2 linked regions of the Homo sapiens genome follow. The protein of the gene in region 2 purifies or fractionates together with the protein of the main gene of each other region. This does not show direct contact. Each region holds a gene or a part of one and is shown on either strand. Other genes may lie near its edges. The genes, in order: SUGT1 and NLRP4.

Evidence for each region.
Region 1: the proteins of NLRP4 (region 2) and SUGT1 purify together in Homo sapiens (affinity purification with western blotting; 2 studies listed by BioGRID and IntAct, with this or other methods). This does not show direct contact.

The regions. Positions count from the first base shown.
Region 1 is NC_000013.11:52,657,573-52,674,469, forward strand, and holds part of SUGT1 (protein SGT1 homolog), read left to right. Parts: coding exon 1-50; intron 51-526; exon of another isoform or gene 527-635; coding exon of another isoform or gene 636-654; intron 655-826; coding exon 827-896; intron 897-1,606; coding exon 1,607-1,677; intron 1,678-3,902; coding exon of another isoform or gene 3,903-3,998; intron 3,999-5,076; coding exon 5,077-5,130; intron 5,131-5,523; coding exon 5,524-5,540; intron 5,541-6,462; coding exon 6,463-6,485; intron 6,486-8,064; coding exon 8,065-8,161; intron 8,162-9,239; coding exon 9,240-9,347; intron 9,348-16,897. UniProt on the Homo sapiens protein: May play a role in ubiquitination and subsequent proteasomal degradation of target proteins.
Region 2 is NC_000019.10:55,863,484-55,880,380, reverse strand, and holds part of NLRP4 (NACHT, LRR and PYD domains-containing protein 4), read right to left. Parts: intron 12,673-16,897; coding exon 12,505-12,672; intron 9,555-12,504; coding exon 9,384-9,554; intron 3,386-9,383; coding exon 3,215-3,385; intron 1,588-3,214; coding exon 1,417-1,587; intron 1-1,416.

The sequences.
Region 1 (16,897 bases), on a different chromosome or scaffold from region 2:
GTATTATTGTCAAAGAGCTTATTGTCACATTCTTCTTGGGAATTACTGTGGTAACGTTTCTTATAAAGTATATTGCCCCCTTTTAATAAGTTACTTATACATTTTACCCATGACAAATTAAAAGTTGTCTTTGAGAATTTTTAAATTGGTCTTTTATACAAGGTAAAGTAGCTCAAATGTGACAGACATGTTGAGCAACACCCATTTAAATTTTATGGATGTCGCTTTTTCCTTCATTGGGTGGAGAATGTATACAGATTTCATTCATAGTTATTGGGTATGCTGATAAAAAATAGCATCACATTTACTATTTGACAGACTATTAAAATGAAATGCTCGTTTAAATTTTTTTTATAAAAAAGAATGTGGCCAGGCATGGTGGCTCACGCCTGTAATCCCAACACTTTGGGAGACCAAAGCAGGAGGATCATTTGAGCCCAGGAGTTCAAGACCAGCCTGGGCAACATAACAAGACCACCTGTATTTAAAAAGTAATGTATTTCTGTATTTTGTACCTTCTGAATAGGGAAAAACTGAATACCTTGAGTAAAATTACATAGAAAATGTTAATGAGACAAGGAGGTGAATTTTGTGACACAGCTGTATTCATTGAAGAGCTTTAAGAAGGAAGCTAAATGTTAAGCCAAAAGGAAGGTACAAGAGTAATATTTATTTGAATTCTATCTTGTATTAGCTTTTCCTAATTTAAAACCATTTGGCATTTCTACCAACTTGAAAACTTAGAAATCTAAAACTGATTCATATGTTGTGTGTATTTGCTAGGATCTATAAATAACTGACTAAAAACCCGTCTTTTTCTACACAGTTGCTGTTGCTGATGCAAAGAAGTCTCTAGAACTCAATCCAAATAATTCCACTGCTATGCTGAGAAAAGGGTATGCAGTAGCTACTCTTCTTGTTGAGCTTGGTATAGATAGTAGGTATTTAATTTGTTGAATGAGTTCATTGCAAGCTTTATATAAGTTGTAAAATTCTGTATTTATACATTATATAGCAGAGATATGATTCAATTTTAAATACAACTTATAGTTCTATTATTTTGTTAACCAAAGTATGTGATAGGAGATCTGTACTTAGTAAATTTTAAAATAGTGATGATTGAAGTATTTGCAAGGTATAGATGAAACTGATAGATTTCACATTGCTTTTTTTTTTTTTTTTTTCAATCTTTTGGAATTTACTATATTTAATTGACTGGACAACATCCTATTCAGCAAAGCTGAATAGGCTACATTTAATGCTATGAAAGCGCTATATCTGTATACTTTATATCCCATCTTGTTTCTGTTGATAAGTATAACTATTCTTTAAGAAACTTCTTTAATTCCTTTGTATAATTATATTTTTGAGTAAGCAAGTCTGTACAATTAAAGTCAGATTCCTTCTGAAGTGAGTTCTAAAATTGAATTTTAGTAGGAATTGTACTAGATCTTAACAGTATATTAGAAAGTCTCTAGGTTTATTAACATACACTTAAAATAAATTTTTTCTTTCAACAGTAGAAAATACTAAGTTTTTTATTTAGAAAGAAGGTATTTTCCAGATTTTTTGTGTGTCTTAATTTGTTTTAAATATATTCATGCAGAATATGTGAATACCATGAAAAAAACTATGCTGCTGCCCTAGAAACTTTTACAGAAGGACAAAAATTAGATAGTAAGTATTAAAAATTATACTTTAATAAACTTATCTATTTCTGTCTTAAATACCAAAGCTGAATTTTGGTAATGTTAATTTCAAGTTAATTGTAGAAACCCAATACCTGTTTTTCTCATCTAAATTATATTTCATATTGATTGCAGATATGAGATCACTTAAAATCGATTAAATTAGCCTTTTGGCATTTAAATCATAGATGAACTTCACCATTAGAAGTAAAAAAAACTATGGAAACACCTAACATGCTCTCTCTGTTTAGTCTGGCTTTGTTTTTTTCTAATGGAGAAGTGAAAGTTTAATTTGCCTTGGTCAGAAGTCTGTTCATTTTAAATTATTCAGATTGCTGAGATGTGAAATCTTAACATTAAAGGTTTTTATGGAGAAGTGAAGTGTACGTTTGGGTAAATTATGAGAGGGTACAGAAGAAACACAGTTTTGAGAGTATTGTGACTTTTAATGTTATATTCTTGAGGGAATATATGAAAAGTATCACAGTGGTGTGGATATCTAGACATATAGAAATTGTGAGAGTCAAGAATATATATATATATATATATATATATTTTTTTTTTTTTTTTTTTTTTTTTTTTTTTTGAGACGGAGTCTCACTCTGTCGCCCAGGCTGGAGTGCAGTGGCGCGATCTCGACTCACTGCAAGCTCTGCCTCCCGGGTTCACGCCATTCTTCTGCCTCAGCCCCCCGAGTAGCTGGGACTACAGGCGACCACCACCACGCCCGGCCAATTTTTTTGTATTTTTAGTAGAGATGGGGTTTCACCATGTTAGCCAGGATGGTCTCAATCTCCTGACCTTGTGATCCACCCTCCTCGGCCTCCCAAAGTGCTGGGATTACAGGCATGAGCCACTGCACCCAGCCGAGAGCCAAGAATTTTTAAATCTGAAAAATACTAAGAGGTTGTGAGTAATTTCAGAAAATTGGAGACTACATAATCCTACTTGTATTATCATTTTATCTTTATGTTATGATAGAGTTTTATCACAGTTCTCTAAAGAAGTGGTTCTTAACTGGAAACGGTTTTGCTTCCCAGGAAACTTTATGCAATGTCTGAAGAGATTTTTGATAATCATGAATGGTGGATGGGGGTTGTGCTACTGACATCTAATGAGTATAAACCAGGGGTGCTACTAAATATTCTATAATGCCCAGGACAGTTCTGCCTAACAAAGAAGTATATGGTCCAAAATGTCAGTAGTGCTGAAATTAAGAAACTTCACTCTTAGTATTTTATGTTACATTCTTACTCTGTACTGTTTTGAATGTTTGCCTTTCTGTTGTGTACCTATTCAGAAAAAAGGATTTTAGCACTGATTATGCAAATGGAAGCTACAAATTAAAAAAGGAGAGGTCTGGGTGATAAGGCTTATTCTCAAACTTGCTTATCCCAGTTTTGGTATGTGAATAGTAGGCCTATTCAGTCAGCAAACAGGACATCTGCACTCTTAGCAAATTCTAGAGTGAAGTTATGTAGTGCCTTGGTACCTAATGTGAAAATCCTGAAGAAACATGAGTCATACCATTCTCTACATTTTCATTTTTCTTTCTTTTTTTAGCGAGAGAAGGTCTCGCTCTGTCGCCCAGGCTGGAGTGCAGTGGTGCGATCTTGGGTCACTGCAGCCTCCACCTCTTGGGCTCAAGTGATCCTCCCACCTCAGCCTCCTGAGTAACTGGGGCTACAGGCACATGCCACCACACCTGACTAATTTTTGCATTTTATTTTTTGCAGAGATGGGGATTTGCCATGTTGCCCAGGCTGGTCTTGAACTCCTGGACTCAAGCGTTCTGCCTGCCTCGGCCTCTGAAAGTGCTGGGGTTACAGGCATGAGCCACTGCGTCTGGCCCCTAGATTATTTTCTTGAGTAATATCTTAATATCATGCCATTGACATTTATTCTTTAGTTATTTCAGAGGTGGCCTTCAGAGGAAGACCTGTTTGGTAAAATTGCTGTTGAGGATATTTTACTTAAAAATAAATTTGTCTTTAAATCCAGGAAACTTTTTTTGTTGTTGTTTTTTGGGGTTTTTTTTTGTTTTTGTTTGTTTGTTTGTTTGTTTCTTTTTTTGAGACTGAGTCTCACTGTGTTGTCCAGGCCATAGTGCAGTTCTCTGTCTCTCAAGTTCAGGTGATTCTCCTGCCTCAACCTCCTGAGCAGCTGGGACTACAGGCATGCACCACCAAGCCTGGCTAATTTTTGTATTTTTAGTAGAGACGGGGTTTCATCGTGTTGGCCAGGCTGGTCTCCAACTCTTGACCTCAAGTGATCCACCTGCCTTGGACTCCCAAAGTGCTGGGATTACAGGTATGAGCCACCATGCCCGGCCAAAATCTGGGAAAAAGTTAAGTTAAACTTTTAGGCTTCTATTTTTATCAGACAGGGTAAAGAATTGTTACCTTTTCCCCTCTTTGTGTGATAAATTGCTTGGTTTTAGTTACTGATTACTTAAAATAATAGGTTACTCAAATCTTTTTGATATAATAGATTTTGATACAATAGTTCTCTAGAATACAGTGTGTGTGAGAGTGTATTTAAATTTTTTATTAATGCTGGTATAGTTGGATTTCTTTTATAAATTAGTAAAGTAGAAATTTTTGTTAAGAAATTTTTAATTTAAGATTTTCAAATTTATCTTGTCTGCAGTTAACTTGAATTAATAAGCTCTTATTTAGAGTACTTTTAATACTTTTAACATATCTTACTATGCACTGTGACTGTTTAAATGTAATCATTGTTCTGTGTCTCCAGAAGTGAATAATTTGTTTATGCATACATTTACACTGTTATCTATAAATATATAATACATCACCTATAGCCTCTCGACTGCCATGTAACTTGGAGATAGGACAAAACTTCACGGAATTTAAAGATGCTTGGTGTTGGTAGGAAAGGCATGGTAACAGATAAAGCCACTGAGAGAATAGTGGACTGAATAGGTATCTGCATTGAAGAGCAAGCTGGGGCTGGGAACGGCTTTTGAACCTCAACTCAGCTCCCAGTTACCAAGCCTCCTCCCCACCCTAACTGATGGCATATTGGGAGTCTGATTTACATCTGATTTTGTTCTGTGTGTGAGGAAGCTTCTCTAAGAGCAGCGGGATTGGGGGAAATGCAGATTATTTGTATCTGTGAAATTAAGGTTGACTGTAGTTAAAATTTTTAAAAAATCAAAATGTTTCATGATTAACAACTAAATGTTAAACTATTGGTATATTTATAACTATAGTAGAGTTGGTGATAAGGTCTGTTAAGACAGGTTTTGTTCGCTGCCGACTCCCCAGTGCCTAGAACACTGCCTGGGATGTAGTAGGTATTCAGTAAGTATTTGTTGATTTATAGGTTGTGCAGATGAGTGATGTTATAGTCAGTTTTTTCTTTCTAGGTGCAGATGCTAATTTCAGTGTCTGGATTAAAAGGTGTCAAGAAGCTCAGAATGGTATGTGGGTCTCCCTTGGTATTTGTTTCAATTTAAAAAGAAGTAAACATCTGAAATTTTTTTGGTTTAAACAAATTTGTTTTTATCTTTATAATTTCTTTTAAATAGTATACGTTTCCTTAGATGTGGACTTCCAAAGATACACTGGTTTTTGCATAGCTTCTTATGTTGAAAGGGGGATTTGGGTGGATTTGCTTGTATGGTATATCAGTAAGAAATTACTAAGGAGTCTAAAATGAATTCAGGATGCAAAATGAAACCACTTTTCTTTAGTTGAAAGGTACGGAGAATTTGCTTGCTTAATCAGTATGTTTGTGCTATAGAAATCATACAAATAACTTTGCTTAAAAATGCACTGTTCCCTGAAAATGTTTCCTTTTTATGTTTTAATAGGCTCAGAATCTGAGGTGGTAAGTCCAAAGTTTTCATTCTTCATGTTTTTATTATTTTAAATTTCAGCTACCAAATATATTTGAGACAAGACTCAGGATGAGCTGTCTGATATTTAAATATTAAGCAATTCCATTTAAGTGCTGGTTCCTCTAGGCACTGAAATAAAATCATTTTTTGATAAATATAGAAGTTTCCAGTCATGAAAATTATTGGCCTATTTTAATGAATTTAGTGTGTGGTTAAAGTTGATTTCGTGTGTTTTAATATGGTCATGATGATCATTTATCTTTTCGTTACTAAAACCTTATTGCATTTATTTAGGTTCAACAGTTTGAATCACTTGTAGGGCTTTTTATGATAGGCTAAGACAAAAGTTAAAGAAAATTGGAAATTGACAGGGTCTTGCTCTGTCATGCAGGCTGGAGTGCAGTGGTGCCATCATAGTGCACTTGAGCTTCAAACTCCTGGGCTCAAGCAATCTTCCCACCTCAGCCTTCCAAGTAGCTGGGACTACAGATGTACACCACCAAGCCTGGCTAATTACTCTGTTTCTTTAAAACGATTTTTAAAACAATGTTATTTTAGTTTAGGAAGTTGCTGAATCTTAGAACTGGCCATTTTATATAAGCAACCTTTTCTAATCATGCCTTTAGAAGTTTTCTGTTATTTAAAGTTCTGTTATTTTAGAGCAAAAATCTTTTATGAAATTCAATCTAAGATTTTTTAAATGCTGAGCATTCTAATTTTTTTCCGAAAACTAGTGGTATTTAACAATTACAGTTACTATGTCTTTGAAGAAAATTTTCATGTAGTTATTTTATATCAAAATAACTGCAGTGTTGGGTAAATTAATAATACATGCATTTTAATAATACAGTTGCTAAACTGACTTGTAAAAATCTTTCTCTTTCAACTTACCAAAATCAATCTGCATCCCAGTGGACTCATCAGTCAAAAATCAAGTGAGTGTTTCTTTTTCATAAAACAATGCATGATAAATATGCCTAAAGAGGAAGAAACCCTGTAGTTTAATAGTAAGCAAATTCTTACCATGTGATTTTTAAGTTTTTGTTTGTTTTCTAAAATTGTGTAATAGCTTTATGTAAAGCCAATTTTAAGGCTGTTTAAGGATTAATATTTGTACTTCAGTTAAATTCAAATCATTTCTCATCTTTAAAGTTGCTTCACTTGGTTTCATATTATGTTACCTTTCCATATGTTAAGGAGAGTCTCTTCCAGTTAAGTTTATGTTACTACACAGGTAAACAAGTTAGTAGTAGATCTAACAGAATTGTAACTTAACCTGCCTTTTATATTTGGAGCAAATTTTTCATAGGAACATTCTGTATGCGTTGAAAGTTAATATTGCTGAGGGCAGCAATTATAATAATGAATAAGCAACTAGCAAGTCTTTGACTTTTAATTATTCATTAGCCTGTGTACAGCTTGTATTCTTAGGACCGTAACAGAAACACAAGCCGTTGATCTGGAGCTTTGCATCCTTACTGAATTGCAAAGGGAAACCGAGACTCTTAAAGTTCATTTCTTTAATCAAGGTGGTTTTGGATATAATTACCTAAAATGGCCTGGAAAAGTTAAAAACCATCTATTCATGGTAGTTGTGGGGAGATACAGGATGAAACTCCAAGTACCTAGTAGATAAGGAACTTTGACTTGCCCTGGTGGCAGCAGCAGGGGTAGGGCACATAACCATGAAATAATAATTAAGGTGTTCAGAGCATAAAATAATCCCACATCTAACTTAATATACGTGTACCGGACACTGTGCTTGGTCCTAGGGATATAATAGCGACAGGATAAACAGCTCTGCCCTCAGAGAGCTTTTAATCTAGTCTAATTTGAAAGTGAGGATTCCTACGTTTCTAGAGCTTTCAGTACAAAAGATGCACATAATTAGAATCTAGACCCATTAGTCTTTCCATGTATCTTGAAATTGAAGGAAAGTGTTGTATATGATGTTGTGCCTGACACAGTTAAACTTCATATGATTTTAATTTTAGTTCATTTGCCCCTGTTTTGTGTGCTCAAGTCTATCTGCTTCCAACATCAGTTTTGAGAGCTTGGAGTGTTGACTCAGGCTTATTGCTTCACCTTTCTGAGCTTAAGTTTTATCATCTGTAAAATAGGGATTTAAGTGTTTATCTGTAGTATTTGGATGAAATGAGAGTATAAAAACTCTATTGATGGCATATAAATATTAGCTTGTTTAAAATAAATGACATCTTTAATATTTATATTAGTTTAAGCACAACAGTGCTAGAGATGAGTCAGAACCCAGAAAATCATGCAAGTATTTAAGTCTACTGGAAAGGTGTGAGCATCATTTACCTTACCATTTTTTTCCATTAGTACAGAGCATAAAAAACTAGTTATATAAAGTTGTTTCTGTGAATCAGTAGTTGCTTTGCTGTTTTCTTCCTCCAGGTGGGGCTCTTGTTGTTTATCAGACTAGTTTTTGTTTTGACAATAGCTTTAAAAAAATTAGAAGAGTTACCTAAGTTTCTTTTTTTTTTTTAATAGGTATGACTGGTATCAAACAGAATCTCAAGTAGTCATTACACTTATGATCAAGAATGTTCAGAAGAATGATGTAAATGTGGAATTTTCAGAAAAAGAGGTCAGTAGACTGAATCATTTTTCAATGTTGATTACTATTATTTGCAAATTTAGTATATTGCAGAATAATCGATAACGGTTTATCAGATAAATGCTATTTCTTCCTGAGATGATTTGGAAAATGTTGAATAAAATCTGAAGCCATTGCTTTGAGGTAAGAATATGTATGTTGGTAAATTATAGCTGGATGTGCATTTTTTTCTTTAGATTTGAAATTTAAAGCAGAATTTGGTTATATTAGTAAGATAATGTGCTTTGGTTATACTTGTGTGGTGTACTTCATGAAAAAGATCTAGTTAGTTTTGTGATCACACATGTCTTAGAATTGACTAGCCATGTTAAATGAGTATGACTTTTTTTGTTGTTGTTTTTTGAGACAGAGTCTCGCTCTTGCGTAGGCTGGAGTGCAGTGGCGCAATTTCGGCTCACTGCAGCCTCCTCCTCCTGGGTTCAAACAATTCTCCTGCCTCAGCCTCCTGAGTAGTTGGGACTACAGGCACATGCCACCGTGCCTGGCTAATTTTTGTAGAAACGGGGTTTCACCATGTTGGCCAGGCTGTTGTCGAATTCCTGACCTCAAGTGATCTACCCATCTCAGCCTCCCAAAGTGCTGGGATTAGAGGCATGCACCACCGTGCCCAGCCTCTTGAGTATGACTTTTAACAACTTGATTTCTTACCATTTAGTAGAGAACCTTATAATAGATTATTTAAAAGAGGTAGTGATAGAACTGTATGTTTTGCACATGGATCACTTTTTGTTATATATCATTTTGCTTTTGTATGTTTTCTTGAAATCTAAATATCAAATAGGTGTGATTAAATATATGACAAATATTATGAAACTTATTCTTTTCTGCTGTTTAATGATGTCTATAAGAATTCATGTCAAGGATACCAGATGGAAAAAAAAGGTTCTTAAATCTTTGAGAACCTTTTGAGGTTCTTAAATCTAAAATTCCATATATAATGTTTAAAATAATTTGTAACATTATTGAAGATTTGTCATTATTTTGTGTAGGTTTTTTACCCTCCATTATATACATTTACAAAATGTGATGCTAATTTTGTGTTCATTAGTTGTCTGCTTTGGTTAAACTTCCTTCTGGAGAGGATTACAATTTGAAACTGGAACTTCTTCATCCTATAATACCAGAACAGAGCACGTTTAAAGTACTTTCAACAAAGGTAAGACCATTGAAAAGTTTGTTACTAGTAATATTTTCAAAATTATAGAAATACTGGTGAACTAATCACCCATGTGTTTATAAGCTTGTAGATTCTTTCAGCCCTTTAACAGGGACAAGAAAATAAGAATGATAACTTTTGAGTATAAGGGTTATTTTACCTCTCAAATTCTAGTACAGTAAAGAATAAAAATCCACTTAGAGTGTGTGGCATTTGTGTATTTACTAAGACAGATATAATGTTTTTCAATAAAGGGGTTTTTTTAAAAAGATACAATAATCAGCCTGTCTTTAAGATTTGATACTGACAATGTCTCTTCCCTTGAACTTGTCAGTTTTGTCTGTTTTGATGTACAAATACTTTTGTCACCCTACCTCATGCAGTTAAAAATACAAACTACAAGAAAGATGAATCTGCCTTTTGTTTTTTTTGTTGTTGTTGTTGAGACGGAGTCTTGCTTTGTTGCCCAGGCTGGAGTGCAGTGGCGTGATCTCGGCTCACTGCAACCTCTGCCTCCTGGATCCAAGTGATTCTCCTGCTTCAGCCTCCCAAGTAGCTGGGACTACAGGCATGCACCACCACGCCCTGCTTAATTTTTGTATTTTTAGTAGAGATGGGGTTTCACCATATTGGCCAGGCAGGTCTCCAACTCCTGACTTTTTTTTTTAAACTGAATTTTAGATTACTCTATTATGAGGGAACAATGAGTAAATTATAGTTTGAGTAATTTTTAGATTCCTTTATAGTTTCTAAAAGAAGTAGAGATATACAACAGAATTAATATTCAGAGAGTATCACTCAAAAGATGTAGATAATAGTGTAATTTAGTAGGAAAAAAACTGAAAATTTAAAAATCTGACTCTGGATCTTTGCTTGCCCTGTGTATTTAGTCTAGGCACAAAATGACTATAAGACTGAATTTTCAGCACCTTTGAAAGGAGGGCTGTGGACCAAATGAACTCTGGAGTCCTTTCAGCTGTAGAATTGTGTGAAGGTATATGATAAATGAGTTAATGGGAATAAATGATGTAGGTAGGCTTTTTCCATTACTACTTTTTTTTTTTTTCCTTGTTTTTGAGATGTAGTCTAGCTCTGTTGCCAGGGTGGAGTGCAGTGCTGTGATCTCAGCTCACTGCAACCTCCGCCTTCTTGAATCAGGTTCAAGTGATTCTCCTGCCTCAGCCTCCTGAGTAGCTGGGATTACAGTCATGTACTGCCACGCCCAGCTAATTTTTGTATTTTTGTAGAGATGGGGTTTCACCATATTGGCCAGGATGGTCTTGATCTCCTGACCACGTGATCTGCCCACCTTGGCCTCCCAAACTGCTGGGATTACAGGTGTGAGCCACTGCACCTGGCCTATTACTCCTTTTTTTATACATAGGTCCTGCAGCATACTGTGTTAGTATTTATTAGGTTGAAGCTCTAAGGACATGTGAAGTTTCCTGTTGTGGAACAGGATCGGGGTTGGCCTGTGTTGTGAAGAATGATAATTGGGCCTGCAGAAAGGACACAGCTGCAGAGGGTTGGAGAAGAAAGTGTAAAGTGAAGTAGTTTTTTGCATCCAGTTAAAAAGGATCTGCCTACTTATTTGAAGATTGTCAAGAACAAAGCTGGTTAATTATGAGGCAGATTTTTGAAATAGCTGCTTGGGACAATAGAAAGTGAGGAAAGGGATGAAATCTTACCAGGATTTTGGTCTCTCACTGGTCCTATCCACATAGTATAGAATTTGTTTAATAAAAGAATTTTTAGTAATCAAGCACAAAATAGGTAGATTTGAGAGGGATATAGTTCATAAAATAATGAATTTGACTTTTTTTGGTATATGTCTATCGAGATTGCTAATGCAAGTGAGCTGAGATCACTACGTTGCACTCCAGCCTGGGCAACAGAGTGAGACTCTGTCTCAAAAAAAAAAAAAAAAAGATTGTTAATGCATGTCCATTTGGAGTTATTTAAATTGAGTGTGAATTAATGATAAATGACTTAAGAACTTGTATTACTGAGCCACCTCCTATAGTGGAAGAATATCATGTGTGGTAAATACATAGATGTGTGGCTAGAGTTGAGGATGTAATTAAGCACTCTTATCTCAATTCTTTTTTCTCTTTTGAGTCTTGGATTTGTTAATTTTAACCATTCTTCAACCATACTACTATGTTCTCAGTTTGCCTTTTCTGCCCCTTCCTCTTTAAATGCTAAGTGACGACTTTTCTTCCTTATATAGTAGTTTATGTATACATTTCATGTCCCTCGTTTCTGTGTAAGTCTTTGAGGATAAGAAGCATGTTTTATTTGTATCTTTGTATGTGCCCCAGTTAGGGTCCCCAGATAAAGTTACAAGATGTTCATTTAAGTTTCTATTTAAGATAAACAATGAATAATTTTTATTATGTAAATATGTTTCATGCTATAATTTTATTTGCTAAACTTGGCAGCCCTCACCACATACATTGCACAGTGGGTGCTTAGTTCAGTGAATGAATTAAAATTGGATTTTGGTTTTAGTCCCATGACATTGGCAGAGAATGTTTATTCTTAGTTTTGCAGGTGGAAAAACAATCATGTTAATGGAGTTTAAATACTTTCCCCAAGTTTACCTAGTTAACTAAATTCTTCAGCCTGGCCTAGGAGACGTAGATACACTTCTGATTGCCAACCAAACTAGTGCATCTTTGCTTAGGTTTTTCTAAGTTTTGAATTGGAGAACTTAGATTCTAAGGATGTGTCCTAAAGAATTATTATTTTTCTTGTCCTGACCCTGGAATCTCTGTATTTTATATACCATATATATATATATGTGCACACACAAAATCTTGTTAGATTACTAACTCTTAAACTATTTGGGGGGAAGCAAATTGAAAGAAGTTTTCTTAATTATGTCTTAAGGGAAATAAATGATAAAATCTTTGAATTTCCTTTTTCATACAGTAGAGGGAGACAATATTAAAATACTGAAAATAAAATATCTGGGTTACTGAGGCTTACTTCGTGGACACTTAAGAGACAACAGTACTAAAATAATTTGCTTTTCATGTATTCAGATATCTTGATTGTTGAGATATCTTGGACCTTTGTGAATTGAGAAAGGACGCATTTTGCAGAGGAGAATCTGCTTAATAGTAGAGATTCTGTAAAATTTGCAGCTTAAAAGGGCGATTTCTTTGCTTTTGGGAATTCTCTTTTCTTTCCCACCTTCAAGATTGAATGAATGTTGCATATCCATGTATAGCCAGTGGTTAAATATTATTTATTTGAGTGATATGTAATTTGTGATGAAAGTAGTAAGAGGTAAAACCCTGAAATTAATGAAGTAGCATTTCTTAACTATTTTACAGTGTAGTATCCAATATGTTTTTCCAAGCCAGGATTCATATTTTTTCAGTATCTCTGATAGTTATTGCTACTTTTTACTGAATATCAGCTTTAATGTCAGCCTATTAATTTTTTAGAAATTAAGAAACTATATGTCTTTCATCTTGTTGATTTCATGACACTATTCTCTGGTCACAGTCTCAGAATTGTGACTTTAGTGGCACCCATATTGTGAAATACTCATTTTAAAAATTAATTTTCATTCCCTTTAAGATTTAGAATTCACAAGTCGGGCACGGTGGGTCATGCCTGTAATCCCAACACTTTGGTAGGCCAAGGCGGTCGGATCACTTGAGGTCAAGAGTTCGAGAACAGCCTGGTCAACTTGGTGAAAACCTGTCTCTACTAAAAATACAAAAAATGAACTGGACGTGGTGACGGGTGCCTGTAGTCCCAGCTACTCGGGAGACTGAGGCAGGAGAATCGCTTGAACCTGGGAGGCGGAGGTTGCAGTGAGCCGAGATCATGTCGCGCCACTGCACTCCCGCCTGGGTGACTGAGTGAGACTCCGTCTCCAAAAGAAAAAAAAGAATTAGAATTCTCAGTCTTTTGGGGTGAATTTGCCCTTGTGGAAATGTTCTTGTATTCTTAAGTCATAGTTAAGTCATAGTAATTTTGCTGATTATACAATATAAAATACGAAGGCCTGGAATTGTGAGAAATAAAAATGTCTGTCTTAGAAACAAAATAGCCTCCTTTTCTCTTCTCCCACTTTGAGAAGTTTTAGAGCGTATCCTATTGCTTAATGTTCATAGAAGAATATATGTATGTTAAATAAAAATCCTGGTGATAATATAATGGAATGGGGTATCTGGGCATGATGCTTCCTTCTGCTTGTCTGAATACATAGATATGAGAGTTTTTAAAATTATTGTTTTCTTTTGCTTTTTTAGTACAGTGGTGGTGATAATAGTGAGATTTCTTTTTTAACTGAATTAGTTTAAAAAAAGATCACAAATTGTAGATCTTGGAATGTATTCTTATCTTTTCATATATTTTGTAATGTATATTTATATATTTTTAAAAGAATTTTACATAATTTTTAAACAGCTACATTTTGTTGATATTTTTATCACATCCTTACATATTCAACAGCAAAGTATTTCGGCATATGCATGTACTGTAGCTTATTTAGCCAGTCCCATTTTGTTTGACCTGTGGAGAATAAGAATAGGTGTTTTGACTGTTTTATCACATTCCAGGCACTGTACTATGAATTATCTCATGTAATTCTCATAGTTACTGCATGGTGTAGGTATTTTTATCCCTAGTTTACAGGTAGAGAAACTTAACCCAGAGATGTTCAATAATTTGCCCAGGTTTTTTAGCTGAGGATATTGATAATAGCATTCTGTTGTTATTTGCCAGACGTGGTTCTTTATTCTTTTCATACATAGTGTCATTTAATCTTCTTGAGAACCCTAAATGAGTCAGGGCCTACTGTTCTCATTTTATAGGAGAAACTGAGGCTCGCTGAGATTGAGTTGCTTGCTTATGGTCATATATCTAACCAATGGCACCTATTTGTGACTCTTCTAACTATACAACTGATTGTTTTTGTGTTATTCTCAACCCCTGGTTATTTCTTAGGAAATAAGTTAAAATTCTAGCTGAAAAATGCGCTTACAGCAAATTATTTCATATCTTGGCTCCCACATCTCTAAAATATGGATAACAATCTTTTTTAATAGGGTGATTCCGTTAAGTAAGATGATATATGTGAAGCATGTAGCATGCAGGATATGTAATAAGAGCTCAATAAATGTTACAGTACCTTTCTTACTGTTTTATTTTAGTTATTTCGATTTTTATTCGGGCTGTAAACTCAGCAAATGCGTTATCATAGAAAATCTGGAAAAGATAAAGGAGTTTAGGAAGTAATCACTCAGACTCACCACTCAGATGACATTCTAGCATGTTTCCTTTCAGATAACCTGATATTTCCTGATACATAGGTCAGTCACTACACCTGACACATACTGGAATCTTTTTGTTTATGGGAATGTCTCTCCTGATTAATTACTTTAAGAAGAACAGAGGCTGTGTCCTTATGTACCAGCACTGTTTCTGGCACAGAGTAGGTACTCAGCAAATATTTGAAATGAGCTGTTAGAAGTTTGGAGAAGACCTTCAATCTTCTCCATTCATTGCCATTTTTTTGCATTTAAAAAATGATTATAGAAATATTTTAGTGTAAAATCAAGGTAGATGTATTAGTCTGGGCTCGAAGGCAGCTATTTTCAGACAAAGGAATTTGATGTAGCAATTAAATGTGAAAAGAGCTTAGTAAGAGTATGTTGGGAAGGCTGTATTCTGAAGATTAGGGGAACAATTATTTAATGAGTACAGTCTTGAAGTGTATGGTTCTTAAAAGTTTGCCAATAAATTGCCCCAGCTCTTTAGTCTCTGGGAAAGATCCCTTCATGTCAGTCTGTAATAGTAGGTGGGATCTTACTTACCACTTAAGATGGTGGTGTCTGGATATCATGATTGCTTAAGCGTAATGCCATCTCTTTAAATCTGAAATTTCTTTCATTGGAAAGAATTAAACTCTCTGCTATGCAGAGGAGACTTCAGAAGTGGATGGTAGTACCTATGCTGTTGAGAGCTAATGATCCAGCACATTAGGGATTCTTAGTGTAATCTGTGAATACTCTTTTGGGATATTAGCAACTTGAGAGCCTTCCCTGTACATATGAGAGCAACATTCAAGCAAACTACCAAAGTTTTAAGTTACTTTTAAAGTTTTTTTGACTTAAATGAAAATAGAATGGTATGTTAATGGTTGCAGTAAAAACCTCTGAAATTGGACTGGTGCTAATTCTAGAACTATCTGCCCGAATCATGAAGACTTAAAACTTCATTTTTAAAAGCATGTACAAACATTGAAAGTGAATTAAATGTAAAAAGGATTTCATAGGACATTAGTCCCTCCCTTCTTTTACTTTTTTTTTTTTTGTGTGGGGGTAGATAGGGTCTCACTCTGTTGCCCATGCTGGAGTGCAGTGGAGTGATCATGGCCCACTGTGGCCTCAACCTCTTGGGCTCATGTGATCCTCCCACTTCAGCCTCCCAGAGTGCCAGGATTACACGTGTGAGCCAACACACCTGGCCCCTTTTACCTTTTTAAAAAAGCTACTTTAAGTGGTTTATTACATGCAGCTATTTTAATGAATGGATTAAGTATAATTTCAAGTTGAGGTCAGCTTGTCTCAGCTGAAGCAGGTTGTTACTAAGAGCTTTGCCTTTTGCTTTATAAAGTCCTCTTTGTTCATACTGCACAGTTACTCAGGTTATAGTGGCTTTCAGTAGATGCGAATGCTACTCTGTGCTGCTCTTCAGGTGAAACAAGGAACTTTTTATAGACAGTATGTTCATAGTTACAGGAACATGAAGTGTGAATATAGGGTGGCCTGTGGCCAAGTTTAATGTGGTGATGTACACAGTACTTTCCAGGCCCTCATTTTTTAGATGAGTTGAAAATTAAAGAAGATGCAATTTTAATTTTTCAGATAATATTAACAGTTCTTTTCAGTAACTATTGCTGTGTCATTGCCATCTATTTGATTTATGTCCCTTTTGATAAATATCGTAGCAGTGACAACTTAAAGTAACCAGAATATAGAAGATATTGGTGGTATATTACTTTATAAAAAATTAATTGTAGTTAACTTTAGGGAATTCTAGAGATTCTTATGAAATATGTTTTTATATATGTAGAGTTTAAACATGTAAATTACACCAAAGATAGTATACTTTTTTTTTTTTTTTTTTTTTGACAGAGTCTCGCTCTGTTGCCCAGGCTGAAGTGCAGTGGCACGATCTTGGCTCACTGCAGCCTCCGCCTCCCAGATTCAAGCAATTCTGTCTCAGACTCCCGAGTAGCTGAGACTACAGTCACATGCCACTATGCCTGGCTATTTTTTGTATTTTTAGTAGAGACAGGGTTTTGCCATGTTGGCCGGGCTGGTCTTGAACTCCTGACCTCAGGTGATCTGCCTGCCTCGGCCTCCTAAGGTGCTGGGGTTACTACTCTTTGCCCTTATCCCAGTGACGTTTGCTTCATATTTTTCTCTTATTATGAAAACAGTCGTTTATTACATTTCTTTGCTCCAAAAGAAAATAAAAATAAACGCTTGAGACCAGATACCCCACATACATATACCATCATT
Region 2 (16,897 bases):
AAACACAGACCTCCGTGACTCAGAATGCAGACAATTTGAGTCCTTCCCCTTAATCACGTGTCTACTTTGGTAGTCTACATTCTGAATCTTTAGCAAACATTAAAATGAGAAAGAAACAATGCCAAGCACTCAGCCTTTCCAGGTGGAGATTTATAAGGATGGACTTCAAGAAAACAAACCTGTATCTTCACAAAATGGAAAAAAAAAAATCAGTGAATGTTCTTTAGCGTTAGAGTTATAACAGTTTTAACCCATTATATTTCCCTTTTCTGGAAATGAACAGCCTAATAACTGCCTATGATTACCTTCATCTCATATTGGTTTGAAAACAGTAGGGGAAAATGAATGAGAAAAATGTTAAGGACTCTATAGTTATCTAGTAAAATAATGTTTGTGGGATTATATGTAATTATAAATATAACAAATTAAAATATAAATTATGTTTATATAAGTTTCTATTTATAAATGTTATACTTATGAATATACATATAACTTGTATTTACACATAAATATTTAAAATATAAACATGTATCATAATTTGTATTATAATAATAAGTGATATAGGAGGTAAAAAATTATTTAGGCAGATAGTGAGGGCAAAAGTCCTCAGCAGAGCTTCCCTTCTAACAAAAACCAGCCCAAGAAATCATTTCTTTTCTAACAAAGAGCATCCTGAAAAACTGAGCTGCAAACATAAATAAGGGAGCGCGAAGATTGCATGGGGGGAATGCCAGCAGCTGCGCCAGTGAAAAGAGCTACCTGGGGGCCAGGCCTGTTCACCATGGAAGCACCATCTTCCCTTTTTTATTAGCATGGGTACAGTAAGAAAGAAATGGGCAACATAGTGCAGCTCAGGCAGAGAACCTGCCTGCTTAATAAAAGACTGGGGTGGGGGCTGCCAGAAATTCACACCCTATGCAAACGGCACACCTGGTCCTAACCAGTTTTTCATGCCCTATGTAGATCAGACACCACACCTCCCACCAGCTCGTCTATAAAACCCTCTGCATTTCACCATGGATCGGGCAATCCATTTTTCCGAGACCCCTCTCTGTAGCAGACAGCTCTTCTTTCTTTTGCCTATTAAACTTCTGCTCTTAACCTCACTCTTTGTGTATCTGCGTCCTTGGATCTCTGCGTCCTTGGATCTCCACGGCCCTGGGACAATGAACCTCGGGTGTTACCCCAGACAATGAGGCCACTTCACAAGTGTTTCCATTTGTTGGACATTCACTGTTCACCACTTACTGTGGTAAGAGTTTTATACTCACCTGCTTGGTTCTTACTCCTGCAACAACCCTGAGACAAGGAACATCATTTGCATTTTAAATGCAACGTGATTACACTGCAGGTCCCAGCCAATCCCTTCTTAGCCCGGAGCACTCTGCCCATAGAGCACAACAGACCCCAGCTCACCCGAGCACCTGCAGGGCACACTCTGGGTGTCTCAGGGCCTCACAGAGTACAACCACCCCTGTGTGGTCCAAGGTGTTCAAGGTCAGGTTGAGCTGCTGCAGGGTCTTACTGCAGGTGAGAACAGACGCGAGATCCTTACAGCAGGTGCTCGTTAACCCACATTCTTCCAACCTGCAATAAAAAGACACATGGTAAGATGCGGCCCCAGCCTCAGGGTGGAGGTAGGATGGGATGTGAGCTAGACGTCTAGTTGAGGCACACCCCATTGCCTCAAGTGCAATCTCTCACAGTCCAGTGTTTACGACCTCAGATCACGCGTCTGTGGGTAGGTGGTAAAAGTAGCCATAAGTGTCCATTCTTCTCTGTATCCCTGCCCACAGCAATGTGACTTTGCAGCTCATTCCACTAACAGAGTCTATTTCCGGCTTCATACCTTGCTTTGGATAATATAACATATTATCCAAAAAAAGGTATGAAGCCGTCTCAGATAACAATGGAAGCAAGATTAGGAGAGTTCTGAGCCACCATTTTGGGTGTTTTTCTTCTTTGGAGATGGGGTCTCTGTCATCCTGGCTGAAGTGCAGCAGCATGACCATGGCTCACTGCAGCCTTGACCTGCTGGGTTCTAGCAATTTTCCTGCCTCAGCCTCCTGAGTAGCTGGGACTACAGGCATGCACCACGCCTGCGGGCTAATTTTTGTGGAGATGGGGTTTCTGTCATCCCGGCTGAAGTGCAGTGGCATGATCATGGCTCATTGCAGCCTTGACCTCCTGGGTTCTAGCAATTTTCCTTCCTCAGCCTCCTGAGTAACTGGGGCTACAGGCATGCACCACGCCTGGCTAATTTTTATGGAGATGGGGTTTTACCATGTTGCCCAGCCTGTTCTTGAACTCCTAGCCTCAAGCTATTGGCTTGCCTCAGGCTCCTTTAGTGCTGGGACTGCAGGACTAAGCTATCACACCTGGTGATCTTGGATGTTTTCTATACTTCATCTCTTGAACTCCTGAGATGCTGCTATGGGCTCATTTCTGTCCCTGCCAAAATTTATACGTTGAAGTCCTAAACCCCAGTACCCCAAAATGTGATCATATTTGGATACAAGGTCTTTATAGAGGCAATTAAGCTAAAATGAGGACACTGGGGGGATTCTAATCATATGACTGGTGTTCTTATAAGAGGAAATTTAGACACACACACACAGAGGGAAGAGAACATGAAGACACAGGGAGAAGACAGATGGTTATCGACAAGACAAGAAGGGCCTGAAGCAGATTCTCCCTCATGGCCTTCAGAAGGAGCCAACTCTGCTGACACTTTGATCTCAGACTTTCAGCCTCCATAACCGTGAAGTGATAAATTCATTACCTAAGCCACCCAGTCCATGCTACTTTTTAAACCCTGGCAAACTGATACAGATGCCATGTCAATGAGCCCAGGCCAACCAGTTAGATAATGAGACGTGGCCCAGTTACACCTGTCATCCCCAAGGGGACAGCCAACCCAGCCAGCCAACCTCCATACCATATAGCAAGGTCAACCCAAACCAGCCAATCCCTCAGTTAACCACAGCTTCCTAAGCACACCTGGCTGAGGTCAGTGACGCCTGCCCAGACAAGCAGAGCCAGCAGCAATCTAACTTCTCATTGCCTTAAGCCCTGAAGTTTTACACTGGTTCATGATGCAACCACAGCTAGCTGCTATGTGGTCCTGTTGGAGTTTTCATCTTTCTCTTTCTTCCCATCCATTTTCCGTCTTTGCCACTCATGAAAACATAACCAGGAGCTTGGCGATACCCACCCAAGAATCTCTAAGCGGCAATCCGTATGCGTCAGAGCCCGACACAACAGCTGCACACCCACATCTCCGATTTCATTGCACCCAATTTGCAGAATCTTCAGGTTTTGATTGCTGATGAGAGCAGAGGCGAGGTCTTCACAGCCAGCAGCAGTGATAAAACATTTTACCAAACTGCAAAGGAGTAAGGGTACCATGCTTAAAGGCTATTACACCTCAGTCTAATATCAGGAAAAGAGACACCAAAGCACGACAGCCTTTGTCATTCATGTGGATAGGCACCGTCAGTCCTCCATATCCACAGATTCAACTAGTGGCAGATTGAAATTATTGAAGAATTAAAACAATAACACATAACACGCAACACTAAAAAATACAAACGAAAAAACCAATAGAGTATAACAACTGTTCACACAACATTTACATTGTATTACATATCACAGTAACTTAGAGATGATTTACAGTATTATGGGAAGATGCCTGTACATTATATGCAAACACTATATAGGCCAGATGCGGTGGCTCATGCGTGTAATCCCAGCAGTTCGGGAGGCTGAGGTGGGTGGATCACCTGAGGTCAGAAGTTCCAGACCAGCCTGGCCAAAATGGTGAAACCCTCATCTCTACTAAAAAAAACACAAAAAATACAAAAAATTAGCCGGGCATGGCGATGCGTGCCTGTAGTCCCAGCTACCCAGGAGGTTGAGGCACAAGAATCACTTGAACTCGGGAAGCAGAGATTGCAGTGAGCTGAGATCGCACCACTGCACTCCAGCCTGGGCGACAAAGTGAGAGACTGTCTCAAAACACACACTATGCCATTTTACATTAGGAACTTGAGCATCTACAGATTTTGGACTCCTCAGGGGAAATCTGTAGCCAACCTCCTATGGATATGGAGGGACAACTGAATTGTCTCAGCATCGTTTGTTGGAGGTCTATCCTCTCTCTGCACCAGTGATACGCTATTCCATGATGCGACATCTGAACACACGTGGATCAGTCTGTTTCTGAGATCTCTATTCTGTGTCTCTGGTCTGTCTGCTTATCCCTGTGTGAATCTCATGCTTTTTTAATTTCTAAAACTTTAGATGACACATTTAGAGCAAGAGTTCCTACATTATTTTTATTTGAGACGGAGTTTCACTCCTGTTGTCCAGGCTGGAATGCAACGGCACAATCTCAGCTCACTGCAACCTCTGCCTCACGGGTTCAGGTGATTCTCCTGCCTCAGCCTCCTGAGTAGCTGGTATTACAGGCATCCACCATCATACCCAGCTAATTCTGTATTTTTTTTTTTTTCAGTAGAGACGGGGTTTCACTATGTTGGTCAAGCTGGTCTTGAACTCCTGACCTCAGGTGATCCACCCACCTGAGCCTCCCAAAGTGCTGAGATTACAGGCGTGAGCCACCGCGCCTGGCCCACTTTTTATATTTTAGGTGTTTCTTAGGTATTCTTGGCCTCTTGCAAGTTCCATACACATTTTAAAATTTACTTTTCAAGTTCAACTCAATCACCAAACAAAAACATCGCATTTTCACTGGGATTTCATGAAAGCAAATGAATTCAACTTACAGAAAACTGACTTTTTAGATACTGAATATTTCAATCTTTGAATATAACATTGTTTTATACCATAATTTGATCATATTCTCTATAAAAGTCTCACATATATCACAGTAGCTATTTCTAGGTAATTTCTTTTTTATGTTACTGTAAAAGGTACTTTTATTTAATTCCACTAGCTTATTACTTCTTGTTGGTATATCAGTAACTGTTTTTGATATATTGTTTCAAGCAAGCTTGTTAGACTAATTCTGATAACTTAGCTACAGATTTTCTTGGATTTTTCTATGTACATTCAAATCATCTGTATAGAATTAGGTGTTTCTTCAAAGATTACAGGTTTAGTGTTTTTCTTACCTTGAAGCATTTGCTAAGATTTTCAGGACACTGTTGACTAGAAGTGATTATAGCCACCGTTCTTATCTTTTTCATGATATTGAAGAGAAAGCTTTTCTCTCATCATTAGACAAATGTTTGCTTTAGATTTTTTTGAACATATTCTTTAGATCATCAAGGAAGTTCCCAAATAGTTTTTCAAGAATTGTATGTCTTAATTCAAACTTTTCTGCATTTTAGATCATGATTTTTATTTTTAACCAGTAAAGTGATTTACATTGATTTTTTTACTAATCTTTTTAATGTTAAAGCAACTTTACATTTTGGGGATAAGCCCAACTTAGTCATTATGTTTATTCTTTTAATACATTTATGGATTCTGCTTGCTAATATTCTGTTCAGTGTTTTTGCATTTCATGAATGACACTAGCCTTTAATTCTGCTTTCTTACAAAAATTGTAAGGATTATATTACAACCAATAAAATTCTTATTGGTTTCTGGCATCAAGATTATGCTAGCCACAAAAAATGGTGGGGAGTTTCTCCTCTTCTGATCCTGAAAAAGCTGATGTAAGAGTGGAATTATTTATTCTTTGAATGTCTGGTAAGAATCACCAATGAAGGCTTCTAAGCCTGGAATTTTCTATATAAAAAGATTTGACTGATTCATTTTTCTTTTGTCTTGAGTACATTTAGGTTCTATCATTTTAGAAGCTTATTGAGTCTTGAAAATATCTAAATTTTCAAGTTTATTGTGTAAAGTTGCTCATATGTAATCTTTTTAATATCTGTAGCATCTGTAGTAATGTTTCTTTTCCCATTCTTGACATAGACCTGCACTCTTCAGTGTGATAGCCAGCCACGTGTGACCACTGAGCACTTGGAATGTAGCTTGTCTGAATCTAGATGTGCCATAGTATAAAATACATAGTGAACCTTAGAGAGTTAATACAAAAAAGTAAAATCTCTCATTAGTAATTTTTTGTACTGATTACATATTGAAGTGATGTTTGATATATGGCTAAATAAACTATATTATTAAAATTAGTTTCAAATATTTACTTATAAAATTACTTTCAAATATTACATCACTTTTAATATGGCTACTTGAAAATTTAATATTACATGTGTGGCTTGCATTATATTCTATAGGATGGCATTAACAAAAACTGTTTTTTCCAAGAACCACCCTGCAGGTTTCTGATCTTTTCCATTGTGATTTTTGTTTCATTAGTTTCTGTCCTTATTTTTATTTCCTTCCATCCTTTAGGGGGTTTATTTTACCATTAAAAAAATCCTTAAGTTCATTATTCTTTAGATTCCTTTTAAAATATATACATGCACTACAGCTCCATCTGAGTTTGTTGCAAAGTATATTCCTTTTTCATTTCAACATATGTTCTAATTTCCATTATGATTTCTCTTAGATTCCTGGACTCTATATGGGAAGTAATTATGTTCACCTTGTAAGATTTAAAGTTCAACTGAGTAGGAAGATAATTTAAAAATTAGCATGAACCGAATAATACTTTGTCTTAAATTCTATTTTGTCTGATTCATACAGTTGCGTAAGCTTCCTTTTAATATTTGCGTGGTCTTTTTTTCTATCCTTTCATTTTCATCATTTTATTGAGGTAAAATTTACTTAAGATTAACTATATTAAAGTGAACAGTTCAGTGGCACTTACTACAGTTCACAATGTTGTACAACCACAACCTCACGTTTTAATAAGTAACTTATAAACATTAGTTACGTTTTAATATGGCAATCTTTTAGCTGAAACATTTAATCTGTTCGTTTAATTACTAGCATATTTGAATTCAAATATATATCTTGTTTCATATTTTCTTACCTGTTCAATTTTTGTTTCCTTGTTCTTTTTTGGATCGGGAATTTTTTAATCATTCTGTCTCCTCTTTTCTGCTAATTTGAGTATTCACCTTAATTTACCCCTTTATATTTTGTTATGGCTGTTGTATATTTTTTCCATTAAATCTTCAAGATGGTATTATTTTTATACACAATCCACATTTTGTTTAGATTTATCCAGAGATCTACCCCTCTCTTTGCTCTATCTCTCTTCCATCTGGAATGATTTACTTCTGTCTAAGGAACAGTCTTTAGAATTACTTTTAGGAAGGATCTGGTGGTAAGAAACTTGGTATTTATTTGAAAATGTGTTTTTATCCTCATTCTTGATAGTTTTTGGTGGCTATAGAATTCTAGGTTGACAATCCACCCTCCCGTCTCCCCGCCATACTGAATATCTCACTGTACTGCCCTCTGGTTTCCACTATTACTCTTCACCCAAGTCTGTCTCCTTTCTTGTAGATATCACTTTCCCCCGCCCCAAGCTCCCAGCCCCTTGTTAAATCTTTACAGACCAACATCTTTATATCTGGTGTTCTGCAGTTTCTCCACTATTTATCCTGTTAAGCGCTTATTTGGATGCTTGAATCTGAATTGGAATCTTTCATTGGTTACAGAAAAATTTCAGTCTTCTTAAAATATTTTCTCTTTCCGCGATTCCCAGTAAGTGTGTTAGAACATCTTAATCATCTAAGTCTTATACCCTCTTCTATGATTTACCTATTTTTCTGTTTTCATGCTGCTTTCTAGGTAATTGTAACCTATCTTCCATTTTACTAATTTTTTCTTTAATTATGTCTAATCTACTATTCACCCCATATAGTCAGTTATTATATTTATAATTTCTAGTTGTATTATTTGCTCATTTCATCTCCTTTTCCCTAAGATTCAAACTTGTTATTTTTCTGTAAACATAGTAAGTATAATAGCTTTATAGATAATTAGATAGTTTGGTAGCTGTTTGTATTTTGACTTGTCCTTGGCTCAATGAGCTTTATTTCCTTGTGGGTTGGGTTATTTTAACTGTGTGGTATTTACTGACCTTAAAAAATCCTTTTAGGAATAAGCTGAGGTCAAGGATCATGTCATCCTATTACCTACCTCCTGAGACAATTTGCTCTTGTTTCTTTCAGGCATCTGTTCAGTACTAGTTTAAGGTTATGTTGTGTTTTTTTAATACGTCTTAAGGAGTTTTGGATAGCCTTAAGTGCTATCTACTTAGCCTGCTACTTAAGAATATTTCTGTTTGGGCTGGGCACGGTGGCTCATGCCTGTAATCCCAGCACTTTGGGAGGCCGAGGCGGGCGGATCACGAGATCAGGAGATTGAGACCATCCTGGCTAGCACAGTGAAACCCCGTCTCTACTAAAAATACAAAAAAATTAGCCAGGCGTGGTGGCGGGCACCTGTAGTCCCAGCTACTTGGGAGGCTGAGACGAGAATGGCGTGAACCCGGGAGGCAGCACTTGCAGTGAGCCGAGATTGTGCCACTGTACTTCAGCGTGGGCTGACAGAGCGAGACTCTTCTGTCTCCAAAAAAAAAAAAAAAAGATTATTTCTGTTTAGCTTCTAGATGCTTTTAAATTTTTTCTTAATATTGTATCTGATGTTTTTGGTGTCTTTCAGTGCCAACGATTGGCCCAGATAGCCTAACGCACTACTGGGAGAGAAAGAATGCATCTGGTGTTTTTGTTATGTTATTTAACATACTCTTCAAGTGAGGAATACAAAATCCTAAACTGATTTCCTAATGGATTAGGTAAAAATCACGCTGCCAGATTTCAGAAGCCTCTGTATTTTTCAGGGAAAATACATAACAACATGTTATCCTAACTGGTAATTCTAAAAACACTGCCACCGCCGCTACAGGGGTTACCCAGATATTTCTCTATTTGATAACATGAAATTAAGTCTTTTCACCATCTCCTTTCTGGCTCATCTCATGCTACCCTTTGTCTTCTTCTAAAGCATTCTCTGTTACACACATTAATTCTCACGTGTATTTTTGGATCTCCCACCTTCACGTTTTACCCTTCTACCTGGAATTTTGGCTTTATTTTTGCACCTGATGAAGTGCATTCATTTTGTAGAACACACACCAAATATCATCTTCGCCATGAAATTGCCCCTCAGGTCCCGACCTAATTCCGGCTCTCTCAGTCCTCTACCTATATGCCACTGGAGAACTCTTTGCAACATATTAAATCCATGCCACAGAAGTCAGGGTGCTGATTTGTTTACATGAACGTCTCGACAAGAATCTGAAGCAAGTATTTTTTAAACCTTCACATGCCCAGGCACAGACACTACAGCCTTCCTCAATTCCAGATGCCCCATTCTCAGCAGTGCATGCCCTTGAAAAGACGGCTTGGTCTTCAAAGAAACAGCAAAAAGCCTACCACAGTGAATCCAGGCAGCAGTCCGGATGTTTCAAGGCCTCGCAGAGAGTTTTCAGTCCTTCGTCCTTCAGGACATTGGCACTGAGGTCTAGATAGCGCACGCTCTTGTTACGCAGAAGCATTTCAGAGATGTATTCGCAGCACTGCTCGCTGAGGTGGCAGAAAGCCAACCTATGGGGACAAAAACACGAGAAGGAGAGTGAAGAGGGACGTGGTGTCTCAGGGAGATTTGCTTAATTTCACATTCAGGGTAATATTTCTATAATCTTACAAACTCCCCAGCTGAGATGAAGTTCTGGATTATCTGAAAACACCTCCTCTCATTTATTCTTTTGAGATGGAGTTTTGCTGTCGTCGCCCGGGCTGGAATGCAACGGCGCGATCTTGGCTCACTGCAACCTCCACCTCCCAGGTTCAAGTGATTCTCTTGCCTTAGCCTCCCAAGTAGCTGAGATTACAGGCACCCACAACCACATCTCGCTAATTTTTGCATTTTTAGTAGAGACGGGGTTTCACCATGTTAGCCAGGCTAGTCTCGAACTCCGGACCTCAGGTGATCTGCCCACCTCGGCCTCCCAAAGTGCTGGGATTACAAGGCGTGAGCCACCGCGTCCGGCCCTCTCATTTCTTCTTAGTTGCATGATAGAAGAATTAGAAAATAAGAGGGTAATGCAGAAGGAAAAAGTATCGTGTAATATGGCATAGCTAATACTCTAACAGGGCTTTAATTTTGGTTCTAATTCTTCATCTGATGATGTCCTTGGACAAGACATGGACCTTCTGAGACCGCTCCCTCAGGGACTGGTAAAGTGTATTGATTACCTCATGTGTAGAATCCCCAACTTTTTCAATTTCATTATTCTTTAAAATCACAGTAGGTTCAAAACTTTTTTTTTTTTGGAGACAGGGTATGGCTCTGTCACCTAGGCTGGAGTGCAGTGGCATGATCACAGCTCACTGCAGCCTCTACCTCCCTGGCTCAAGGGATCCTCCCACCTCAGCACCTCAGTCTTCTGAGTAGCTGAGACTACAGGTGCGTGCCACCACACCAAGCTAATTTTTGTATTTTTTTGTCAAGAAAGGGTTTCATCATGGTGCCCAGGCTGGTCTTGAACTCCTGGGCTCAAACAATTCACCTGCCTTGACGTCCCAAAGTGTTGGGAATATAGGTGTGAGCCTCCAATCCCAGCCAGTTTATGAATTTTTTTTTTTTAAGGATCCATGTTGACTTTGAAAAAAAAGTGTGGAGTAGAGAAAAACAAAAAAGCAGACGGTGCAAGCTAGTGATGAACGAACCACATATGGCCTACGGATATTTAGATTTCCTGGCATTTTTATGTTTAACAAAATCAGTTGGCAATATATAACCATCAGTAAAATTGTATGTAAAATCTAGATTTCAACCTCTGTTGAAAACTGGGATATCTGGCAATAATGAGCCGCATTCCCACATGGAAATCCAACAGGCTAGGACAGAACGGGCAACTGCTTCCTGTTGACAGACACAAGATCTGCATTTCCACGGAGGCCTCACCCAGCTTGCTTCTCTCACGGATCTCAATTTTCTGGCATATCCAGGCATTTGTGGACTTTGTTGTTTTTTGTTTTTTTTTTGGTTTATTTTTTGTTTTTTTTTGAGACAGTCTTGCTCTTTCACCCAGGCTGAAGTGTGGTGGTGCGATCTCGGCTCACTGCAACCTCTGCCTCCCAGGTTCAAGCGATTCTCCAGCCTCAGCTTCCCTCGAGAGTAGCTGGGACTACAGGTATGCACCACCAAACCCAGCTAATTTTTGTATTTTGTATTTTTAGTAGAGACGGGGTTTCACCAACTCACAGAGTCTACCAACTTCCATCTGGGTTCCCCTTCCTGAACTGCATCCTGAAATCTCTCTCCAGATAGTTACCTGGGACAATTCTAGGACTCACCTGTTTGTCCCTTATCACTCAGGCACCACTGTCCTTCATTGCCTGATGTCTGAAGTCTTAAACAGTTGTTTTATTTAGTTGGTTATTTTTGGTTGTTTTAGGTGGGAGGTTAAGTCCTGTCCCTGTCCCTCTATTTTAGCTCGAGGTATAAATCCTCTCATTTTCTTGACATTTTCAGAATACTCTTACTTTCATGTTGTTCATATTTCAAAATGCCCAAAAGTATAAAGAGGGAAAAATCTCCATCCTCCCCTATCTCCCAGCTTCTCAGTTCTATTTCTCACAGGCAGCCTATATTATAATACTATTTCTTCCAGTGATATTTGTGTATTTAAAAAATAGACACACTCGAGACCAGCCTGACCAACGTGGAGAAACCCCATCTCTACTAAAAATACAAAATTAGCCAGGCATGGTGGCGCATGCCTGTAATCTCAGCTACTTGGGAGACTGAGGCAGGGGAATTGCTTGAACCCAGGAGGCAGAGGTTGCGATAAGCCAAGATCATGCCACTGCACTCTAGCCTGGGCAACAAGAGCAAAACTCAAAACTCAAAAAAAAAAAAAAAGACACAAATGCATATATATTCTCCTGTCCTCTCCCCTTTTGTATAAGTATCACCTAAAGGTATTAGAATTCCATTAATAGGTAAATCAATTGGCCTTTAACACTTACTCATCTGTCTTCCTTCTGTGTTTTACGTACCCTAAAACTGGCTTGAATAGCCTCTTCTCATCCTATTACTGCAAGAACATCACATGTATTATAGTATTAACTGGGGTCAAGAGGCCCATAGACATTTTTCCCCGCTACTGTCCTGAGTACCCACCAAGTCTATTCTACATGCTCGAAATAACCGTTATCAACACGGGAAGTACCATGTGTGTTGCAGGTGCATTAACCCAACCTAACAGCTTTGAAACACAGTACGTGTTCTGTATAGACAGTCTCACTTGATAGCCATAAGACCTCTAAGACAGGATTTTCCTCTGCTTCTAAGTTAAATATTTTGCTTAAGAAGACAGTATATACGTGATAAATCCTGAACTAGAACTCAAGTCTTTTCTGATTCTTAAGCGTGAGCTTTTAAACCTCCGCTATGTGGCCTCCATCAATGAGCAGACTGTCATCAATAGGCCCAGGTTTGAACTGCCGCCATGGCCCTCCACAGTAGGCACCCCCAACATCCACTCACATCAGGTATACCAGGACCGTGTCTGGGCTGCACAGGGCTTCACACAAAAGGGGCACGCCTGTGTCTAACTGGTTGCAGGATACATTCAGATACGTCAGCTTCTTGTTGTTGGTTAGAAGGCCAGCAAGGACTTCACAATCAATGGGTGAGAGGTGACAATTTACCAGCCTGCAGGAAAGGGAAAATGTCACATTCTGTTGGTTTCTAGTTCCTGGACTCATTCCTCTTGCCAATCCTGTCAGAGTCGGGAAGCCCACATTTGCTGTCCTTGAGAGGCTCACTGCCTCCCAACCCTGTTCTTGATCCCTGTCAACCCAGTCTCTGGGGTACAGAGACAGCCAACCTGAGATGCACAGTCTCAGTTATATGCATGCTTGGCTTACGGTCTCTGGGGTACAGAGACAGCCAACCTGAGATGCACCATCTCAGTTATACGTATGCTTGGCTTACGGTCTCTGGGGTACAGAGACAGCCAACCTGAGACACACAGTCTCAGTTATATGCATGCTTGGCTTACAGTCTCTAGGGTACAGAGACAGCCAACCTGAGACACAGTCTCAGTTACATGCACACTTGGCTTACGGTCTCTGGGGTACAGAGACAGCCAACCTGAGACGCACCATCTGTTATATGCATGCTTGACTTATGGCCTCCGGGGTACAGAGACAGCCAACCTGATATGCACTGTCTCAGTTATATGCATGCTTGGCTTATGGTCTCTGGGGTACAGAGACAGCCAACCTGAGATGCACCGTCTCAGTTATATGCATGCTTGGCTTATGGTCTCTGGGGTACAGAGACAGCCAACCTGAGATGCACCGTCTCAGTTATATGCATGCTTGGCTTACGGTCTCTGGGGTACAGAGACAGCCAACCTGAGACGCACAGTGTCAGTTATATGCATGCTTGGCTTAGCCTCCCCCAGTAACTTATCTCACTGCACTTGGAGAAAATCCCAAAATATACAACATGATCCACAAGGGTCCTACCCATTCCCAAGTCCCCATGTCCCAGCCACCCTGGTTCTTTTTCAGTTGCTTGACAACACAGGTTTCATTCTCTAAGATATTATTCATGTTTGATCCTCCCCAAACTCGTGTCTAGTGGCTCCTTTACTCAACTTGGGCTATTTTGCATGTGTGCCCGCCAAGTGGAATGCTCTTTTTCTGGCCTGTGGTTAGATGCATCTTTATCATTCAGGTCTCTGCTCAAGTAATATCTCCTCAAAGAACATGGAAGAAGCCTTGAACCCGAGTCCCCTAGGACTCCTTTTTTGGTGGCTTGAGTTGATTTGTGTTGCCTCACAACTGTGTGGTTTAACTGTGTGGTTTTCTATTACCTCAACCACTCTCCTTACCTCTGGTTGCCACAAAAAATAAGCTCAGAGACAACAGAATAAAGATGAAAGCCATTATGGGAGTTGTCCAGAAATAAATGTGGAATTGGCAAGTCACCGAGTCCATGGCTCCTCACGCCTCTGCAGCAGGGCTCTGAGGCCATGCATGCTTTTAATGTTCTTTCTAGATTTAAGATATAGGTTGGTGCGGCCGGGCGTGGTGGCTCAAGCCTGTAATTCCAGCACTTTGGGAGGCCAAGGAGGGCGGAACATGAGGTCAAGAGATCAAGGCCATCCTGACCAGCATGGTGAAACCCCATCTCTACTAAAAATACAAAAATTAGCTGGGCATGGTGGTGGGCACCTGTAGTCCCAGCTACTCAGGAGGCTGAGGCAGAAGAATCACTTGAACCCAGGAGGCGGAGGTTTTAGTGAACTGAGATTGTACCACTGCACTCCAGCCTGGGTGACAGAGTGAGACTCATCTCAAATTTGGGGGAAAAAAAAAGAAAAGAAAACAAAGAAGTTAATCTTAATGAATTTGGGTTAGGCAATGGTTTCGTAGCAATTGCACCAAAAGCACATGAGACAAAAGAAAAAAATAAAGTGCATCTCATCAGATTAGAAGCTTTTGTGCTTCAAAGGACACCATTAAGAAAGTGAAACGACAACTCACAGAATGGCAAAAAATATTCACAAAGTACGTCTCGTATATAACTTGTAATCAGAAAACATAAAGAACACTTACAACTTGACAAAAAGGCAAAAAATCCAATTAAAAATGTGCAAAGGTGTTGCCAACAACCATATGAAGAAATGCTCATTAATCATTAGAAAAATGCATATCAAAACTGCAATGAGATACCATCTCACACAGGTCAGAATGGCTATTATTAAAAAAAGTCAAGAAATAATATATGCTGGTGAGGTTGCAGAGAAAAGTGTACACTTACACATTTTTGTAGGAATGTAAATTAGTTCAGCCATTATGGAAAGCAGTTTGGCAATTTCTGAAAGAACTTCAAACACAACTACCATCAAACCCAGCAATCCCATTATTGGGTATATACCCAAAGGAATATAAATCATTGTACTATAAAGACACCTGCACTTGTATGCTCATCACAGCACTATTCACCTAAATACCCATCAACAGTGGGCTAGATAAAGAAAATGTGATACATATACACCATGGAATACTATGCAGCCATAAAAAAGAGTAAGATGATGTCCTTTGTAGCAACATGGATGGAGCTGGAGGCCATTATCCTTAGCAAACTAACACAGGAACATAAATCCAAATATCACATGTTCTCACTTATAAGTGGACGCTAAACACTGAGTACATATAGACATGAAGAAAAGGACAACAGACACCAGGGCCTACTTGAGAGCAGAGGGTGGGAAGAAGGTGGGGAAGAAAAATCTACCTATCAGGTACTATGCTTATTAACGGGTGACGAAATAATTTGTACACCAAACTTCCATGACGTGCCATTTACTTTTATAATAAACCTGTACCCCTGAATGTAAAATAAAAGTTTTTTAAAATGTTGTTTAAATGTTAAAATTTTTAAATGTTTAAAAACCTGTACCCCTGAATGTAAAATAAAAGTTTTTAAAAATGTGTGAAGGACTTGAATATATATTTCTCCAAAGAAGATATAGAAATGATCAAAAAGCACAGGAAAAGATGCTCATCATTAGTCATTCAGGAAAAGCAAATCAAAACCACAATGAGATGCTCCTTCACATCTACTAGGATGGGTATAATAAAAAATAAGTAAATATAAGTAATAATAAAATATAAGTAAATAAGTAAAAAATAAGCAAAGATGTGGAGAAATTAGAACTCTCATACATTGCTGGTAGGAATACAGAATTGTGCAGTCACTGAGGAAAATAACTTGGTGGTTTCTCTAACAGTTAAATATGGATTTACTATATGACCTAGCAAGTCTACTCCTGGTTACAAGTCCAAAAGGATTGAAAGCAGGTGTTCACACATGAGTGTTCATAGAGCACTATTCAGAATAGCTAAAAGGTGGTAACAACCCAAGTGTTCATCACTAGAGGACTAGAAGAACAAAATGGGGAATATCTACACAGTGGAATACTATTTAGCCAAGAAAAGGAATGAAGTACTGATACATGGTACAATTTGGATAAACCTTGAAAACATTTTGCTAAGTGAAAGTAAGCCATTCGCAAAAGACCACATGTGATTCAACTTACATGAGACGCCTGGGATAGGAAAATCCAATAGGACTGAAAGTATGTTAGTAATTCCCAGGGACCAGAGAGATAAGGGAGTGAGGAGTGAATGCTAATGGGTATGGGGTTTCTTTCTGAGGTAATGAGAACATTCTAAAATCAGTCATGATGGTTGTACTTCCTCATGAATATATATGAGGATCACTAAACTGTACATTTTAAAGCATAGTTATACTTTAAAAGTATTTCTTAAAATATATGAAGTACATACTTTAAAAGTATATGTTTTGTGGTATGTGGATATCACAATAAAGTTGTTATTTTTTAAAAAAGGGTTTGGGTCTTTTTGTGTTCGGTTGATGCAAGCTCAGAAAAATGGCCAACAAAGACTAGTATAGAGAAGTATTTGAATGTGTGGGTACCAATGAAGGTAAGTAGAGGGTAAGTATTTACAGGAAACCCTTATTTAATTGCAAAAATAAAAATGCTTGAATTAAAACATACATACTGGAAAGTACACACAATGGTTAAGTGCCAGCCAACGCACTGTCATGAATTTAAGGCACTTGAGTTACCAGTATCCAGGTCAAGAAACAGAGCAGGTTCATCATTCTCCTGTACCCCTCTCCTTCACTATCTTAACAAAAGTAACCGCTGTCTGATATGGTTCGGCTGTGTCCCCACCCAACCCTCACGTCGAACTGTAATCCCAGTGTTGGAGGAGGGGCCTGGGGGGTGACGGAATCATGGGGGTGGTTTCTAGTGATTTACCACCATCCCCTAGAGCTGTTCCTGTGACAGAGTCCTCACGCGACCTGGTTGCTTGGAACTGTGTAGCGCCTC